2 linked regions of the Homo sapiens genome follow. The protein of the gene in region 1 purifies or fractionates together with the protein of each later gene. This does not show direct contact. Each region holds a gene or a part of one and is shown on either strand. Other genes may lie near its edges. The genes, in order: ILDR1 and HECW2.

What was found.
Region 2: the proteins of ILDR1 (region 1) and HECW2 purify together in Homo sapiens (affinity purification with mass spectrometry; one large-scale study listed by BioGRID and IntAct). This does not show direct contact.

What each region holds. Positions count from the first base shown.
Region 1 is NC_000003.12:122,008,571-122,012,393, forward strand, and holds part of ILDR1 (immunoglobulin-like domain-containing receptor 1 isoform 1 precursor), read right to left. Parts: intron 1-3,823. UniProt on the Homo sapiens protein: Maintains epithelial barrier function by recruiting MARVELD2/tricellulin to tricellular tight junctions (tTJs).
Region 2 is NC_000002.12:196,219,344-196,223,166, reverse strand, and holds part of HECW2 (E3 ubiquitin-protein ligase HECW2), read left to right. Parts: intron 1-826; coding exon 827-956; intron 957-2,225; coding exon 2,226-2,372; intron 2,373-3,013; coding exon 3,014-3,128; intron 3,129-3,823. UniProt on the Homo sapiens protein: E3 ubiquitin-protein ligase that mediates ubiquitination of TP73. Acts to stabilize TP73 and enhance activation of transcription by TP73. Involved in the regulation of mitotic metaphase/anaphase transition.

The sequences.
Region 1 (3,823 bases):
TTCTTTTCTTTTCTTTTCTTTTCTTTTTTTTTTTTTTTTTTGAGATAGAGTCTCGCTCTGTCACTCAGGCTGGAGTGCAATGGCACGATCTCAGCTCACTGCCACCTCCACCTCTCGGGTTCATGGGATTCTCCTGCCTCAGCCTCCCAAGTAGCTGGGATCACAGGCGCCTACCATCACACCTGGCTAATTTTTGTATTTTAGTAGATGCAGGGTTTCACCATGTTGGCCAGGCTAGGCTCAAACTCCTGACCTGAAATGATCCACCCGCCTCAGCCTCCCAAAGTGCTGGGATTACAGGTGTGAGCCACTGCGCCCGGCCTGAGCCACTGCACCTGGCCTTCTTTTTTTCTTTCTTTCTTTCTTTTTTTCTTTTTTTTTGAGATACAGTCTTGCTCTGTTGCCCAGGCTAGAGTGCAGTGGCGCAATCATGGCTCACTGCAACGTTGACCTCCTGGGTTCAAGTGATCCTCCCATCTCAGCCTCCCAAGTAGCTGAGACTACAGGCATGCACCACCATGCCTGACTTTTTAAATTTTTAGTAGAGATGAAGTCTTGCTATGTTGCCCAGGCTGGTCTTGAACTCCTAACCTCAAGCAATCCTCCAGCCTCAGCCTCCCAAAGTGCTGGGGTTATAGGCGTGAGCCACTGCACACAGCAATTGATATAAATTTCTAACTAATTTCCAGGAGATGCTGATGCTACTGCTCTAAGGACCATACTCTGAGAACCACTGGTGTAGACTCAATTTAAAACACACACACACACACACACACACACACACACACACACACAGGCTTTAGATTCAGATACAGCTGGGTTCAAATTAAACTTTAATATTTACTTGAATTTTGGACAAGTTATTTACTCTCTCTCTGAGCTAGTTTCTCAGCCATGAATGAAGATGATGATAGTGCTAGCCTTATCAGGTCCTTGCAAGAATGCAATGAGATAATCTACTGTCCTTGGCATGAAGCCTTGCACATACACTGCCACATTAGTGTCAGTATGTGAGTCTCTTCCTTTTTTTCCCCTTATTACGAGGGCCAAGGAGAAAGAGGTTGGAGTTGGGGTTTTCTCCAACAGAGTTTTCAAACGGAGCCACCTTCATTTTGACCAAGGTACTCCCACAAACAAAACAAATGTAGTTATTATCCTACGGAGCAGCTAGGTGGGCCTGTCTTGAACGCTAGAGCACATGATTCTTGGGTCCTGCCTGACCTACTGGTCACAGCCCTTGTAAGACTGTCCCCTTAAACTTCTGATAGGCACCTGCATCTGGGTTTCTCACATCCATAGACAGACAGCAGAATGCTGCTCAGGACAGGCACTCACAGAAATGACCTGACCACCTATCTCCAGGACTGGGCTGTGATGCAGATGCCCCATGGCAGATGTGCTGGATAGAGACTCTGCGGCAGTGCAGGCGAGAGCTGTGGGCAGGAAGACTTCATGAAAGGAAATGATTTAACCTAGGCTCCAAGAAGCAGGTAGAACTAAGATCACGCATGAGAAGTAGGAAGAAGGCAGAGAAACTCATTGTTTCAGTAAGCAAGAAAGGAGGGAGCAAAGAGCCTTATTAGGAAGGGGCAGTTACTTGGGTAACCTGGGGGAAACCAATCTAGCTGTGTCTCCAGCTTTATGGAAAACAGAGAAGATAAATAAGGCGGGGCTGGTGGTGGTGAGTGGGAGGTGGGGCGATGGGGTGAAGTCTAAATCACAATCCAGTTCAATTTCTTGTCCATGGATCATCACTGAAGTCTTTTCTGAAGAACAGTAATACAGTGAAAGTGGTGTTTTTAGGAAGATAGATGACTTCCCCACTCAGCTGTAAATGAAAAAAAAATATATATCATTTTAAAAATAAACCTTGAGTGGTTTTGGGAAAAAAAGCTGCTGTCTCCGTAAGCTGTAGAGTCCCAGAAATCAGGCCAATTAGAATGGAAGGGCCGGTGACCAGCATCTCAAGCCTAACATGGCTTTCTTAATCTAATTTTTGGTTCTTGTTCTTTCTCTGTGACTACCCCTTTGTGTGTTTTTTGTTTTTTGTTTGTTTGTTTCTTTTCTTCCAGAACTGACCTGAAATAGACCTTGGAGATCTCACCAACCACAGTTTTATCTGAATAGTAGAAGCAGCCACAGATAAGATTTTCACAATGAATAGGTTGCCATTGTCAACACTGGCTTATTTTGTTCCATAACACACATACCGATGAGAAGAGAGAGGAAAACACTGATATTGGTCTAAATAAAATCTTAGGTTCAACAGCATCTTCAAATATATTCTTTTATATACTAAATGTGATACCTGGGAGAAGATTAGCTGTGCTCACTTCCTGTACAACAAATCTGAGGCTTGGAAATTTAAGGGACTTGTCTGTGGTCATTCGTTTTTTCTAAGGGGGTCAGAGTCGAGATTCTGTCCCTGAGCAGTGCTCCTGCCTCTCAGCTTGGCTATTCTTTAAATAAAAGATAATTGGTATTCACAAGTTTGCAAATAATTTGAGCTGGGGGCCAGGCTATGTGAGCAATAATTAAAATATAACTGGTGCAGTCACTCTGACACAGTAAAATAAAGAACATGTAGGCTCCTTATTTGGCTGAATGTAATTTGATATAAATAGCAGTTTAATCAACACTCTAGTCAATATCACCTGTATAGAGGTAGCGCATTTGGGAGCAGGGAGACCAGGTTTGCTGGGGGTCAGAAAAAGGAATTTGGTTAGAGTCAGAAATTGCTGTGGGGTAGCTTTGAAGATTGCAGAATCTGACACCCTTGAGGAGGGGAAATGGGGAGAAAGGTGATCACTCAGCTCCCCTTCCATGAATGCCCTTATTGTGGACAAACCACATTTGGGGTGACAAAACTCACCTTTACCAACGTCAGCACTGACTTTGCTGCTTGGGTACTCTTTTATCTTCTCTTCTATTTCATCCCTGTGTGAATATCAAGCCTTGATATCTGCCAGGTTCAACAAGTTCTGGCCATCTTGAGCTCATTCACACTCTCTCCAGGGGTCTGCCAGCCAGCCCCACAGCATCCTGTGCAGACCTCAAACGTCCACCCCCTGCCCTGTCTCTCTTTCTCTCTCTCTCTCTCTCTCTTTCACACACACACACACACACGGGAAGAGTCCCAGGAGAAGAGGTACTGAACAACCCAGCAAACTCTTCTCCCATATCTCAGTTGTTGCTGTGGGTCCTTAGCATCTATTATGCACCGGGTGATGTACATTCTTGGTCTCTAAATCTCACAAACCCCCTCAGCTAGGCAACAGCCCTGCTCATATAGGTGGGCAGAAGTTCAGCTCAGAGTATAAGCCACACCCCCACGTGTCCAACATCACATACCTAAAAAGTGTCAGCATCAGGATTTGAGCTTGGGCCTTGCTGACAACAAATCCCAATTTTTCCCAAGCAAGCAAGCTTGATCTTCCAAAGTAGAAGTCAGGCGCCAGGCTCTTAAAAAGCAGTCAGATTTTCCAGATTGGGAAGGAAAGGCAGTAGCAAGACAGTCCATCTCAAAGGCAAAAATCACCCACTTTCTTTTCCTATATCCTCTAACTTCTCTGTAAACCTAACCACACTGGGCATGCACAGAACTAAGCAGGTGGAGTTTTCAAGAAAGGACCCAAAGCAGCAAATCAGGCTGAAAATGTGAACAGGATCAAAAAAGAGAAACGTCCTGATTGTAGTCATCCTGGTTGCAACTTTGCTCTTTCAGGCTTACTACAAGTTTTCAAATTCTTAATTTTTTTTCTATTCTTAAAATTCCTTTATCCTGTGGAATTTTCTCCTCCCCAGTTCATTGACTCCTCATTTC
Region 2 (3,823 bases), on another chromosome or scaffold:
ATTAGCTCCTGGGGGTAGTGACTATTCATCAAGTAGCTATTCAGATGTCTGGTACATGCTTGATGCCTAATGAATGTTCAGATTGAACTGAAAAAAAATGACCCTTAAAATTGGGTTAAGGGGAGTGAAATTTCAAAACAGCTATAGCAAATCAATGACTACCACTGTACAACTGGGCCATGGAACAGTAACTTACCTCATGTCGATTCTTTCTCTACAATTAAAAAAAGTGGGGGAAAAATACAGATTGACGGCAGGTTCTGTGGCTTACTATTTTCAGAATAAGAACCATGAAGAAAAAGGGAATGTATGTGAAGATGAATCATGTCTTTAATAAAAAATAAAATAAAATAAATATTAAAATAAAAATCATGTCTTTCAATTAAAAAAAGTTAAAATATAGAAATATATAAATAATTTCAAATTAAGATAACAGTATTTTAAGGTAGTATAATATGGCCAGAAAGAATAATGGATCCAAGTTGTCAACCCGAGTGCCAGTTCCTGATCTGGCATTGATGATGGATGACTGCGCAGATGGCACTCATTCTTTGCACCTCCAGTTCTGTGTCTATAAAGGAAGACGCAGGCTGAATGATTCCTGTGGCATATTATATATTTAGGACTTTCTAATTTTATAACAAATTTCTGAATTATTTCACTGGTTTGGTTTAATTACTGGACTTGGACTAAGAACATTCCAGAAATCACTGCCTATGTAGTGGCTCTTATTCTTCTCTTTAATTCTTAGTTTCTTTCCTTATGACTCTGGGTTTTTGCTAATAGCCATGCCTACATATTTGTTTCTGTCTGTTTGTCATCTTAGTCTATGTGACCTGAGTGACCTAGAATACCTTGATGAAGAGTTCCATCAGAGCCTGCAGTGGATGAAAGACAATGATATCCATGACATCCTAGACCTCACGTTCACTGTGAACGAAGAAGTATTTGGGCAGGTGTGTGTATCTGCACACCTGGCGCCTAAGTGTGGTAACTGAAGGCTATTGATGAGTGAAGAATTAACTCCATGGCTAAGATCAGATGCTTATTTATTCGTGGTTTATTGGGTGATTTAAACTCAGGATCACACACAGTTATAATAACCGCAGTTATAAAGATTAGAATTAATGTCAGCTGCAGATTAAGATGCTGTAAATTACAGATGGTGATAACTGTTTATGTTGTAAGCAATCTTCTTTTTATTTCCAACTAAAATATCCCCCAAAATATGAGAATTTACCTTATATAGAATGCAGTTTTTTAAAGTCCACACTACAGAATTTTTTAATTGGCATTTATAGAATGGTGGCTGGGCACGGTGGCTCATGCCTGTAATCCCAGCACTTTGGGAGGCCAAGGCAGGAGGATCAGTTGAGCCTAGAAGTTCAGGACCAGCCTAGGCAACATGGTGAAACCCTATCTCTACAAAAAATACAAAAATTAGCCAGGTGTGGTGGCACATACCTGTAGTCCCAGCTACTCAGGAGGCCAAGGTGGGAGGGTCACCTGAGCTGGAGAGGTTGAGGCTGCAGTGAGCCTGGATCATGCCACTGCACTCTAGCCTGGGGGACGAGAGTGAGACCCTGTCTCAAAAAAGAAAAGAAAAATAAAGAGAACCAAAATTGATTTTTTTGAAGCTAAGGGAACATAAACAATGTTTTGGGGAAGACTTAAGAACAGAATATATTAATTTTTTTTTCAAAATTGGTGGAAGAGTAGGGAAAACGTTTCTTCCAGAAATTATATACCAGTTTATAATTAATATTCTTATTTAGGCATTAATCTTTAGCTGCTTTTCTGCATTCCATGTGTTTTGAAAAAGTTCTCAATTTAACATTCACTTGAGTGTAATTCTGCTTTAAAGTAAATCTTTACGCTAGATATAGTCAATTCTGAGAAATTTGTGAAAATGGGTTTTGTCAAACATTCAAATAGTAGCAGGCTAGTATCTGAAGCCGATTCATCGGCATTTTAAAACTTAACCTGTAGTAACAGCAATACATATATATACTTTAATCACCAAAGCTTTCAAGCACCCCCTCAATGCCTATTTTTTCCTGAGTGTGTGTGCTCCGTGAGTGCCTGGGGCCTCACTGCCAGCTTGTGGGATGTGCCTAGGGCAGGGCTGGGACAGGTAGCTGGCTGATTTCAGCTCAATGCTAGTAATGTTGTTATAACATTAAGAGTATTGCTTTGTAGTCATTCTTTTTATTTTGTAATCTCAGATAACTGAACGAGAATTAAAGCCAGGGGGTGCCAATATCCCAGTTACAGAGAAGAACAAGAAGGAGTACATCGAGAGGATGGTGAAGTGGAGGATTGAGAGGGGTGTTGTACAGCAAACAGAGAGCTTAGTGCGTGGCTTCTATGAGGTAAAGACAATCAGCAGTAGGAGGAGTTTGCAGTCTGATATCAATGATGCCACAGTCCATCTTATTGTACTTTACATGTGTAGACTATTTCTGCTGTATTTACTGTTGCTCTTTCCATGCGAAAAGTTCAGTATTTTTTCCCTTATGTTTCAAGAGCACCAAAAGAAGCTTAACTCACTGTTACGAGAGATCACTGAAATAAATGTTATGGACTGCATTCAAGTAGCATTTGTTGATTTAATGACCACTAGTAACATTTAAGCCATGCATCTTATGCTTAGATATGGGTAATCAAATCTCATGCTTGCTATGTGAAATAATTATATCTGAGATCAGAATGAGTTGGCATGTATTGTATGTGACTTTTTCTGTAGAAACACTAGATAGTTTCCTAAAGGTGGACGGGACCTAGATTAATCAGCAATCAATTATAAAACAAAAATTCTGTCAAGGCAAATCTCATCAACCTTATACTAAAGAATGCCTTATATTTGTAGGGAGCTTTACAGGTTTTCAAGTGCCAACACAAGGTACACACATATTATTCCTGAAACTCCATGTGTCCCCTTTTCTAAGGCTTAATTATAGCTGATATTTCTCCAGGCTCCTAAGCCATGCCTTGTACTCTTTTTATTCCACAGGTGGTGGATGCCAGGCTGGTATCTGTTTTTGATGCAAGAGAACTGGAATTGGTCATCGCAGGCACAGCTGAAATAGACCTAAGTGATTGGAGAAACAACACAGAATATAGAGGAGGTGAAATTTGATTTATAGATGGCTAGATTTTAAATTTCAAATTAAAGGAAGGCATGGTTCAGCTTGCCAACTGAATATAGGACAGGCAACAGCACTTGGACTCTAATCATAGGTCTGATGCAGGCTCCCTTGAGACCTTGGGCAAGGTACATTCTCTTCTTTTCCTAATTACCTCATCTGTCAGATGGGAGAAGGACTGTTTACACACCGTCAAAGGATGTCATAACTCTTAATTGTTGGTGAGGAAATGTGACCGTAAGAACACTAATTAATTACTTTATCGTGTTGTCAGTGAAGCACCAAGGAGCTAACATCCAGCTGGTCAAACTCCACCTATTCCATTTTGTTTCTAAAACTTAGAAAAGCACACCCTTTGAGCTTCCCAATCAGCACAGTTTTTCCACTGTTCACTACGCTCCTTATCAGTTGTAATTCATAGTCAGAACACTTGAATGGAATAAGACACAGTTCCCAAAATACAACATTATTGGAGAAGTTCTAAATTCAAGCATGAATTTCAAGTGAAAAGAAGACTGTAGTAAGATTAATTAAAAACTGCACTATCTGACACTTCACAAAATGGGAAGCTAAAAAAGTGACACTTCTGCAGATCAGTACAAATTATTGATTAGTAACTGGGACCAAAGCCATTGAAATTTGAGTGTTAAACCAACACTTTGCAAGGGACCTGGTGG